Linked DNA regions of Homo sapiens: region 1 is linked to region 2. A link means that fine-mapping ties the variant in region 2 to the expression of a gene that starts in the linked region. Tissue or cell type: vagina. Region 2 holds a variant in brackets; the other region holds the start of a gene. All regions are shown on one strand. Distances are from middle to middle.

The links. PIP is the estimated chance that this variant, and not a neighbour inherited with it, causes the effect.
Region 1: it holds the start of HPGD, and the variant in region 2 is fine-mapped to the expression of HPGD in vagina (GTEx, PIP above 0.99).

The regions. Positions count from the first base shown.
Region 1 is chr4:174,520,035-174,525,186 of GRCh38, forward strand. It overlaps HPGD (15-hydroxyprostaglandin dehydrogenase), which reads right to left and starts at 2,454. Exons shown (of 7, transcript NM_000860.6): 1 at 2,325-2,454; 2 at 1,910-2,033. The coding sequence starts at 2,417. LOC105377548 (a long non-coding RNA gene) reads left to right here and starts at 2,579. Exons shown (of 7, transcript XR_007058492.1): 1 at 2,579-3,095; 2 at 3,351-3,387.
Region 2 is chr4:174,080,830-174,085,981 of GRCh38, forward strand. The region is part of intron 1 of LOC107986204 (a long non-coding RNA gene); the gene reads right to left. Among named protein-coding and RNA genes, the nearest start is that of LINC02268, 140 kb to the right of the region's middle. The variant G/A (reference allele first, on the strand shown) is at 2,076.

The DNA.
Region 1 (5,152 bases), 440 kb after region 2:
TTTTTTTTTTCTCCTTCCATTCTGAGTATGTTCTAACTCTTCATAACTCCACAGAAACAACCTTCACCTTTTGGAAAATGAGGGTGTTAAATATGTATGTCTAATTGCCGCTTTAATTTTCTTTCCTCATTCTGTTCTCCACCGTATTCCTTATACTCTGCCCTTACCAATGTATAGTATACCATCTTGTTTTCTGACATCCCATTGAATTCCAGGCTCAAGCAACAGACAGTCTACCTCTTGCTGACATTTATATGCTATGGTACTCTTTGTAACTTACCTAAACTCTCTTGGCTGTGATTTGTTCATTTGGAAAATAAGTTATGTTTAGATTATCTCCAAGAAACTTTTCATCTCATATTTTTATAATTTCCACACTGTCTAAACAATTTTAAAAGTTATAGGCAACATTAAATCCTGAAACTGGAAGAATCAATGTCATGTTTCCTTTAGATGCAAGCAAATGCTCATGTCCAGACAACATGTGGATTTCTCATGACCAACATGCCTTCCCGGGTCACTTATGTGTCTGAGTATTTTTCCTCCTCCACAATCATTTATCCTTAAGGAATGAGTTTATAGCCAAGGTATTAATTTTAAATACTGGGAAAAAAACAATTGTAGTTAAATGTCATTTATGAAACTATATAAATTGAGACAGAAATGGCTTTCAGATTGTTTATACTGTTCCTTATGCCATCAGCATGAATGTTGAGATCTGACCTGGCTCTATCCTTGATCCAAAATATCATGTGCAATCAACATAATTGTCCTCTGGTACAATATGTTCCTCTTGCATTGTGTTTACAAATCTGTTCTGCTCATGCTTGTCATCTGTGTTATAGGTCTTTATTAGCATTTTCAGATTTCAGTTATGTAATTTCCTTTACAATTTCTCTTAACTGTTGGTACACCACTTCCTTCTAACACGTCAGTTCATTTTCATTCTCTTACAGAATATTTTAAAATTTTAAAATAAATGTACATTTGATGTCCCTTTAAGAACAGGAGCACTGGAATAAGATTTGCAAAAGTTTTCAGACCCCTTGATTAAAAAGTGCCTTACAATTTACTCAGTCTCTTTGAATAAAACTTTGTGAAATACAAATATTTTACTTTTCTAGTTTTTCTCCAGAATTTTTGTTTCCTGTAAGTTTATTGGGGCACTCTCAAGTTCTCCAATAGATGTACAAAAAAAAAAAAAACAGCTTTATAATCAAAGCTGTTTATTGTGTATGCCAATATTGTCCCTGATACTTCACAAGTAGATTGGTCTATTTTAAGTGAGTAGCCGGAAACAGGAAAGCATTGAGGAAAGGCTGATAGAGATGTTTCTACTACAATTCTAACATTGTATACTTTATTATGATTACTATTATTATTATTTTAAAGTACTGTCTCATTGGGGAAAAAGCCGGAGAAAACATATGGTCAAAAGCATCTAGCACTTCTGTGATGATGCTCCTTGAACTTGTATTCTGATATGTTTAAACGAAAAACACTGCCACATTTGATTGTCATTGGACTCCAGCTTTCTGGGAGAAGTTGTTTGTCAACAGTACCTTACTTAACCTACTTTAATTTTCCAAGTTTTGTCTGCAATTTCAATCATTTAATAATTACTGCAGCAGCACTGTCTTTGAATACATAAAGGAATTTTGATTACATTAATGCTGCCAAATGACTACAATAAAAGGATTTCTCCAGCAGTCTTGCCTTTCTTTCGGTTTTACAGCTATTGGGCTGTCAGAAGGAAACGTATCAGTCCAAACTGTCTTTTGGAGCTTCAAGGTAGCTGCTCTCGAGGAGGCAGCGGAGGCGGCACCCAGGGCCCCCTGGCCGGGCTGCCTTCAGGTTGTTGCTTGTTGAGAGCACGTTCCCAGTTGACAGATTGATTCCCCTGTCTTACCTCTCAGTTGTTGCTGGTCAGCCACATCGCACTGGATGAACAGAGTCTTCTGAGGTTCAAACTGCTCATCCAGGGCAGCTTTACACTGTACACCTGCTTCAAGATTCCAATCCACCAGCGCTACCTATAGACAAGAGGAGAGGAATCGCGGGCCTGCGCAGCTCACGAAATAGACGGACAAACAATAAACACACAAGAGGCTCCCCTCCTGGACCTGAAATTTGGCAATTAGGTTTGGGTTCCCTCCCAGCCACTTCTGAGGTGTGCTCACAGCCTCAGCTTCAGCAAATTTTGGAAGTGGCAAAGTGGGCACGCCGGGCGCGGCCTCCCTGTCTCCGCCAGTGCACCTCGGGCGGCGGGGCGAGTCTCGGAGTGTGTGGGCAGAGAAATTTCCGCGGCTGGGCGCCGGGCTTACCTTGGCGCCCTTAAGCAGCAGCGCCTCTGCAAAGGCTCTGCCTATGCCCTGAGCCGCGCCGGTCACCAGCGCCACTTTGCCGTTCACGTGCATGGTGCAGCCACTGCTGGGGCGGGCGGTGGGCGAGCTCCGCGTCTCCGCGCGGCCGCGGCTTTTATGCCCCCCTGCGCGCGCGCGCGTGCAGCCCGGCGGGGCGCTCCCCTGCCAGTGGGCGGGGAGGAAACTGTCAAGCCAGCGCCCGCCGGGGAACCCACGACTGTGTCACCTGCCCCCTGAGCGTTCTGGAGCGCCAAGCTTCGCGATCTTTGCCTTCCGGACTCGCAGACCGGCTCAAAGCCTCCCCTCAGCCTCTGGCTCCGTGATTGGCAGGCAGCTGACAGAAGAAAAGTTAAAAGGTTATTTCTGAAGAAGAGTTTCCTTCAGTGCCCTAAAGACCAACTGGATAGAAGGAGAGCGGAGCAGAGGCTTGGAAGCTTGGATCCCTCCTCCTGCACTCCCTCCCGGCCCCGACTCCGGAACAAAACAAGCAAACAATAAAGCAAACTTGTTGCTCTTTTGTCTCAAAGTTTTGTGTGAGTTCCCATCTCGTAATCAGTGGGGTTGAGGGTGACGGGGAGCAGAAGTAACTAATATCATTGTGTTTTCTTAGTTACATTTTGGACAAATTTTTACGGATACTGGAGATGAGAAGTGGACTCTGCTCTGTCCTGAAAACCTGGAATCATAACATTTCATGGCTAGGACTAGAGTGTCCTTGGCGCTGTGTTTCTGGTCAGTGTCAATTGTGTGTCATATTGAGATGCCCCCACAAAAACTGTCATCATCAACAGGCGCTCCAGAGCCGCTGGTAGCCTACCAAATTGTTGGCTCAATGGAATGCTTACTTGTTGAAATACACCAACTTTGGAAGCTCTGAGTCAAGTTTGGGACAGAGGTTCCTTGCTCTCCAGGAACTCCAGGGCTAGCTGTATGCGGACTTGCATAAATAACAAGGGCTATTCCACTGACTTTGTCTCTTTTTCTCAGGTTGTCAGCGGCAGGCTGCAATTTTAATTCTGTAAACGTAAGTGGTTGGCTTTTTTTTTTTTTTTTTTTTTTTAATCTTGAGACAAGATCTCGCTCTGTCTGTTTGGCTAGAATGCAGTGGCATAATCCCAGCTCGCTGCAACCTCAATCTCCAGGGCTCAAGCGACCCTCCCACCTTGGACTCCCAAAGAGTGCTAAGATTACAGGCATGAGCCACTATGCCCAGCTGGCATTTATTTTCTTAAAGAAAAAAAAAATCTAAATACTTGGGGGAAATGGGAGTTGAGCAAAAGACTGACACTAACAGCAGAATGAATCATTTTTATATCTTCTTTACCTTCTTTACTGGGAAAGGTGGCTGGCTCAGCAGGGAAGGAGTGTATGAGGAGACTGTGTAAAATGTGTCTTGTCGCGTTGTTGGTAAGCCGCTAAGCAAATGTCTTTAACATTAATTTGAAATTAGGTCTTGACAAAATCTTGAGAAATTAAAACAGGAAAATAGATATTTGTACTCTAGGATGATAATTAAAATTGTAATATGAAGAGTAAATTGAGGGGTCATATTGAAAGGGAATAATAGTAGAAGACAAAAAGAAAACAAGGAACCAAACAAAACTTCAGCTCCTCTAATGGCATGCACAGAACATAGAAGTTTCTGATGAAGGAACTGGCAAAAAAGACAGAAAAGGAACTGCTGGGGTAAAATGGCAACATGCTGGGAGAACACAGGTTTGCAGCTCTTGTGGGAGAAATACTTTCAAGAAGAAAGAAGTAGTTAATAATGCAAAATACTCAGGTGAGCACCAGGGAATAAAGGATGGAGAAATATTTTGAATTTTTCAGGACAATATTTAGTGTGAGTAAATTTAGAAGGCACAAAAACTGAACAGCTGAAATGATCTGTGAGAAGATAGATATTGTCATGGACTGAAGACCAAGGTTACATGGAAAGAGAAATGGACTGGATAATAGTTGAAAAGATTAGACAGCAAACATGTTTTTCTTTTAAGAAAAGATAAGAAGATTGATTGAGGTCAAAGTGCAATGAGTCAAGGATAGTGACAACTGGAAGAACAGGAAGCAGTTTGGCGGTGGCGGATAGGTGAGGCACAAGGACGTCAGCACTGGATTCAGACAAACCGGGTTTGGATCTTGTGTCTGCTACTGACCAGCTGTGTAACCTTGGGCAATTTGCTTCAACTCTGGGTCTCAGATTCCTTATTATAAAGTAAGCTTTTCTAAAAAAAAAAAAAAAGGTGAAAATTAAAATAGGTGAAGCATATTAAACACTATTACAGAGCCTGCCACAAAGTATTAATACATTAATATTAGTCCCAACATATTACTTCTGAAATATTAATGAATAATAAATGTGAGATAGAGAAAAATGTGAAGAATAGGTTTTTTTAGTAGATAGCAAGGACTGAGGTCTAGAGAAAACTTAGTACCCCTTCATCCCTTTCCCTCCTCTCAATTTCCACTGCCACTGTCCAGATTCATATTTTCTCCTATGATAGCAAACAGCAGTTAGCTTCTCATTACCTCCAAATACGCCCCCCACTTTTTTTCGCATTGTGAGATGCTTTTATTACAGTGAATTAAACTGCTTACCAAACAGTGATCTTTGTAAGGAAGGATTTTTTCCCTTTTTAGTTGACATGGAATAACTGTGCATATTTATGTGATCTATATATACAGAGTGATATATATGTACGGAGTGATATATCAATACATGTATACAATGTATAGTGACAAAATCAGGATATTTGATTATTAGCATATTTATTAACTCAAATGTTTAT
Region 2 (5,152 bases):
TTAGAAGATTGGAACTGTGAAAGACAGCCTCAGCAACCTGTGGAATTCCAATGAACATTTGTGTTTGGTCATTGCCATGTATGTTCTATTATTAAGTAACTGTTGGGTAACATGTCTCAGGCCAAAATAAACAGTATTACCTGATAGATGTATGCACTAAACATTAATATATTATAATGAACAGAGCTACATTGCTGCCCAAATGATCATATACAGATCATACAACAGTGTAATCTGTTTATCACGATACCAAATATCTTACGTTCTGGCTTTTTCTATAGAGTATCATCAGTTAACATTCAGAATTAATGCGCCCCATCCAGCCAGCTGCCCAAGCCAGAGGGTTTTTTCCCAGTCAACCCATAAACACCTAGTGGAGAAGTCTTAGCTATTTAATATCTCCATCCATGTGTCTCCATCCCCATTGTTACCACTTAGGTCAACTCTTGAATTCACATTTCTCATTCAGGTTCCATTAAGCTCCTAAGCGAGCTCCACACACCCACTGATGCCTCTTTAATACATTCTCCACTCTGCATCCAGAGGCATCTTCTAATAGTATAAATATGTCATTGTTCTGCTGAAAACCGTTTGATGATCCACTATATTCTTCAAGGCTATTCATAATCTGGCAATACAGTGGAGCCATCAAGAACTTGGGCCCTAAAGCCAGACAGTCTAGGTACAAATCTTGGCTCTAACACCAGATGTGGTTCTGGGAATTCACTTTATGTCCCTGCTTCTCAATTTTTCCTTCTGTAAAATAATTAATGTAATATTAGTGTTGCATTAATATGGTTGGGATTAAAAGAGGTAATGCTTATAAAGCCCTTAGTCCAGTGTCTGGCACACACATAGTACACATTCCATAAAAATAATCTGTTATCATGTCTTGAGTTCTGTGTTCTCTACAGTTAAAACAAACTGCTGGCACTCTCTGAAGACATTATTCTGCCTCTGGATGCTATCTTTACATGTGCTGCTTCCTCAGGCAGGAAACCAGTCTTCTCCCATGGCCCCAACACCACTTTCTCTAGTTGATTCCCACATTTAACCTTTAAAAAATCATGGAGATTGAATGTCCTCCTAAAAGCCTTTCCTCACTTTCTGCCATCTAGGTTTAATTCATATACTCATGGAGTAGTCCATACATAACACTACTCTAGGGCCTTATAGATTATATTGCAATTGTCTGCCTAATGGCCTATAACCCCACGTGGGTTATAAGCTCTTTGGAGGTCAACAATATAACTATTTGTCTCTGTATCATTAGTTCATTTTTTGTTTTTTTGAGAAACAGTCTCACTTTGTCTAGGAGGCTGGAGTGTAGTGGTGATCTCAGCTCACTGCAACCTCTACTTCCTGGGTTCAAGCAATTCTCTGCCTCAGCCTCCCAAGTAGCTGGGCCTACAGGCATGCACAACCATGCCTGGCTGATTTTTGTATCTTTTATAGAGATGGGGTTTCAATGTGTTGGCAAGGCTGGTCTCCAACTCCTGGTTTCAAGTTATCCACCGGCCTCTGCCTCCCAAAGTGCTGGGATTACGGGCATGAGCCACCACGCCCAGCCTCATTAGCTCACTTTTGCACTGCTATAAAGAAATACCTGAAACTGGGTAATTTATGAAGAAAAGAGGTTTAATTGGCTCATGGTTCTGCAGGCTGTACAGGAAGCATGGCTGGGGAAGCCTCAGGAAACTTACAATCATGGAGGAAGGTGAAGGGGAAGCAGGCATCTCTTCATATAGGCAGTGCAGGAGCAACAAAGGTGGAGGGAGGTGCTACATACTTTTAAACAACCAGATCTTGAAATAACTCATTCACTATCACCAGAACAGCACCAAAGAGGAAACCTGCTCCCATGAGCCAATCACCTCCCATCAAGCCCCATCTCCCACATTGGGGTTTACAATTTAACATGAGATTTGACAGGGACACAGACCCAAACCATATCACACAGTGACTGAAGATAAGCAAAGGAGAAGTAGCAGGAATAAAGATTCTGTAGACTTAGATGAATCTGAGAAAAAGAAGACTGTCTAAGGGTCTCAATCATCAAGTGCATGGTCATATGC[G/A]AGTACTTAGAACTGTATCTTTTTCTCACCAGATAAAATCCAAACTAATTATATTCAAATGTAGAATATGAAACCATACTAGTACAAGAAGAAAACATGGGCTAACTCCTTTATGGCCTGAGAAAGGGGACAACATTCACAATTATGATTCAAAATCTAGAATCAGTAAGGGAAAAGATGGATAAATGTTAATATAAATACATATAGATAAATACACCCATATATACATTCATACCTGAAAGTTTTGCATGACAAAAATAAAAGCACAAGCAAAGTAAAAAACAAATCATAATACAATTTTGAAAATCTTACTTATACAATAGGCAAAGATTTATTATTCCTAAGGTGCTTATTTTAAAATATGATAAGTAAAGTGAAAGAATAGTGGGTTTTTCCTGCCTGGAGTGTTTTTAGATGAAATAATATGATGTTTGAAATTTGTTTTGTGAAAAAAAAAAGCCCTCCCTTTCGACAAAAGTAAGGGGATAGGTGAAATAAGTTTGACAAAATGATAGCATTGGAATTATGCAATTGATTCATAGATACTCATTCTGCTGTTCTGTCTACTTTTGTGTGCAAACTTGCCATAATAAAAAAGCTTTGGAAGTGCATTGGAAGAAAATTATGCAATCATCTGAAGGGTTAGGCTAGTTGAATTCCAACACTTACTTATCAGTTTCATAAAATATATTTCCTAGGAAAAGCCTTTATCAATATTATAATTTTCACTTGGGATTGAAATCACTACATGCTAAGCTCTATAAAAAGCTAAGAAATTTTATCTTGCATGTTTTGTTTCAGGAAGGGTCAGCAACATTCAAGGACGTGCTATCTGAATTAGGGATTGAGCTTCCTAAATCTCAGCTTAAGCTTGAATGTGTCAGAATGGTTCCCAGCTGTCATGATTGCACTCAATTAGGCTGAACTTCTGGCCATCATCTAAACCAAGACCTTGCTAGACACCTCACAGGCCCAGGCCCACACATTTGAGCTGCCTTGAAGCCAAGGCAGGTCCAGGATATTGATATATACCATATACACATGACTGTTACACAACTGTGGCAGATGCATCCTTACCATCTCACCATCTCCTACTGCTTCCCAGTAAAGTCTACTCTGCACTTCACTGCAAAATTATTTTTCAAGAAGGTCTTTATCGCTATATTCCCTTTTTGGAAAACGATACATCTTTAGCTGTAGATTAAAATTCACAGTGTGGTATTCACTGCTCTCAATCCGGGCAAATTGAGAAGATTCTGGTCTCACCTTTGTGGCTATAAGCCTCCCTCAAATGTTTGCTCCCTAGTCTATGTTATTCTCACTGGCAACCTGTACTTAAAGCGCATCCTCTTCTGAACAGGTGCTTTTCTGCTTATTATACGATGCTCGACATTTGTAAAAGTAAATGTCTTATGTCCCCATCCAGATTTTTGAGATTTCTTCTCAGTATTTCCTGAATCCAGCATTAGGATAAGGAGTGGGCACTCAATAACAGCGATTGATTCTTAGAGTCGAAGCTGTAGAATTTTGTGGTGAGGAATATGATTCTTGCAGGACAAGTCAATGAAGGTACCATCACAAGCTACTATATGGTTCTTTAAGTGGCACAAAATGTGTGAGAGCATTTAGTGTGTCAAAGGAACAAGATTATCAATCATTGAACACATATAACAATTTCTACTTGTCCACTCATCACTATAATTTTCAAGTGTTCATTTCATCTCATATACTATTTCCAGACTTCAGAGTTATTCCTTTAGATTCCCCTTTCAACTGACTCATATCCATCCTTTATTCCAGTTTTCCCATTATTCTCACCCCATAGTTAAGTGCCTCATCACTTCCTTCCTGAACTGGAATGCTTACTATTAAAGGAAATCTCTTCTTCCTCTATGTCAGTGATTTCAACATTCAGCAAGAAGCCACCATTCCCCATGACAATCATCCTGCCATAAACCACGGTTAACTGATCAGAGTGTAACAACTCCTCAAGTTCAGGGAAAAAATCATTTTGAGAATTACTGCTCCAATCAACTTCCTACAAAATTTGTCCTAAAATTATCATCCTAAAATAGCCCTGTGATCAAACTACTCCCTACTAATACACCTTCAATGGAATATTGTTCTCATAGAATAAATTGCTAACTCCTTACAATTTCACATTACCTGACATATCTACCTGTAACCTTTGCAAATTTCAAGGTAGCTCATCCCTTATCTACACAGAACATTTCAAACTTACCTCCCTCGGGGCCTTTTCTCAGCTGACTCCTTATCCAAAAAGCTGTGCATTGCCTGCGCCACATCTTAGAGTATCATGCTTTTACTTATTTTTATAATTGTATTCTTTCTACCTCCACCTTGACACTAAACTTCTTAGACAGTAGAAACTACATCTTAAAATTATTTTTCTCCCTCAGCATTCTTAACACAGTGTTGTAATGTGTAGTCAACAAATTAGATTTATTTTTACAGTACACATTTATCAAGCTATAATTTTCACAATGTTTTAATTCTGTTCTGAGGTCTACAGATATCTCTACATAAACACTAAAGCCAGTGATTTAATAAGTGAAAGGAATGCATACATTGCTTTGCAAAAAAATTAGCCTGATACATTTATATCTATATATTTATAGAATCATTTTCCCAAGGCTCATGAAACTAAAGCGCACACATACACCATAGACACACACACACATGCACACACACACCATTATAGTCAATTCAAATGGATTTATATTGTGTCAAATTAAATGCCATATGAAATTTATAATCAGATACACAAAATATGAATGGAATCATGAATACACTGTTGATAATGGATACCATAGCTCACAAATATGATCTCCAGTTAAGAAGAGAGAAATAATTGTTTCATTGGATTTTTGGTATGCGCTAATCACCATCACAAAAAAATCAATTTAATTACACAGTATTCAGAAATTTAACAAACATGCAGATATTAAGTTGACCACAATAAAACCTTTAAATCTGCAAAAAGACATGAAAATATATGGTCAATAATACCATTGTTCACTTGAGTCAGCTTAACATTTTACTTTATTCAGATGCCA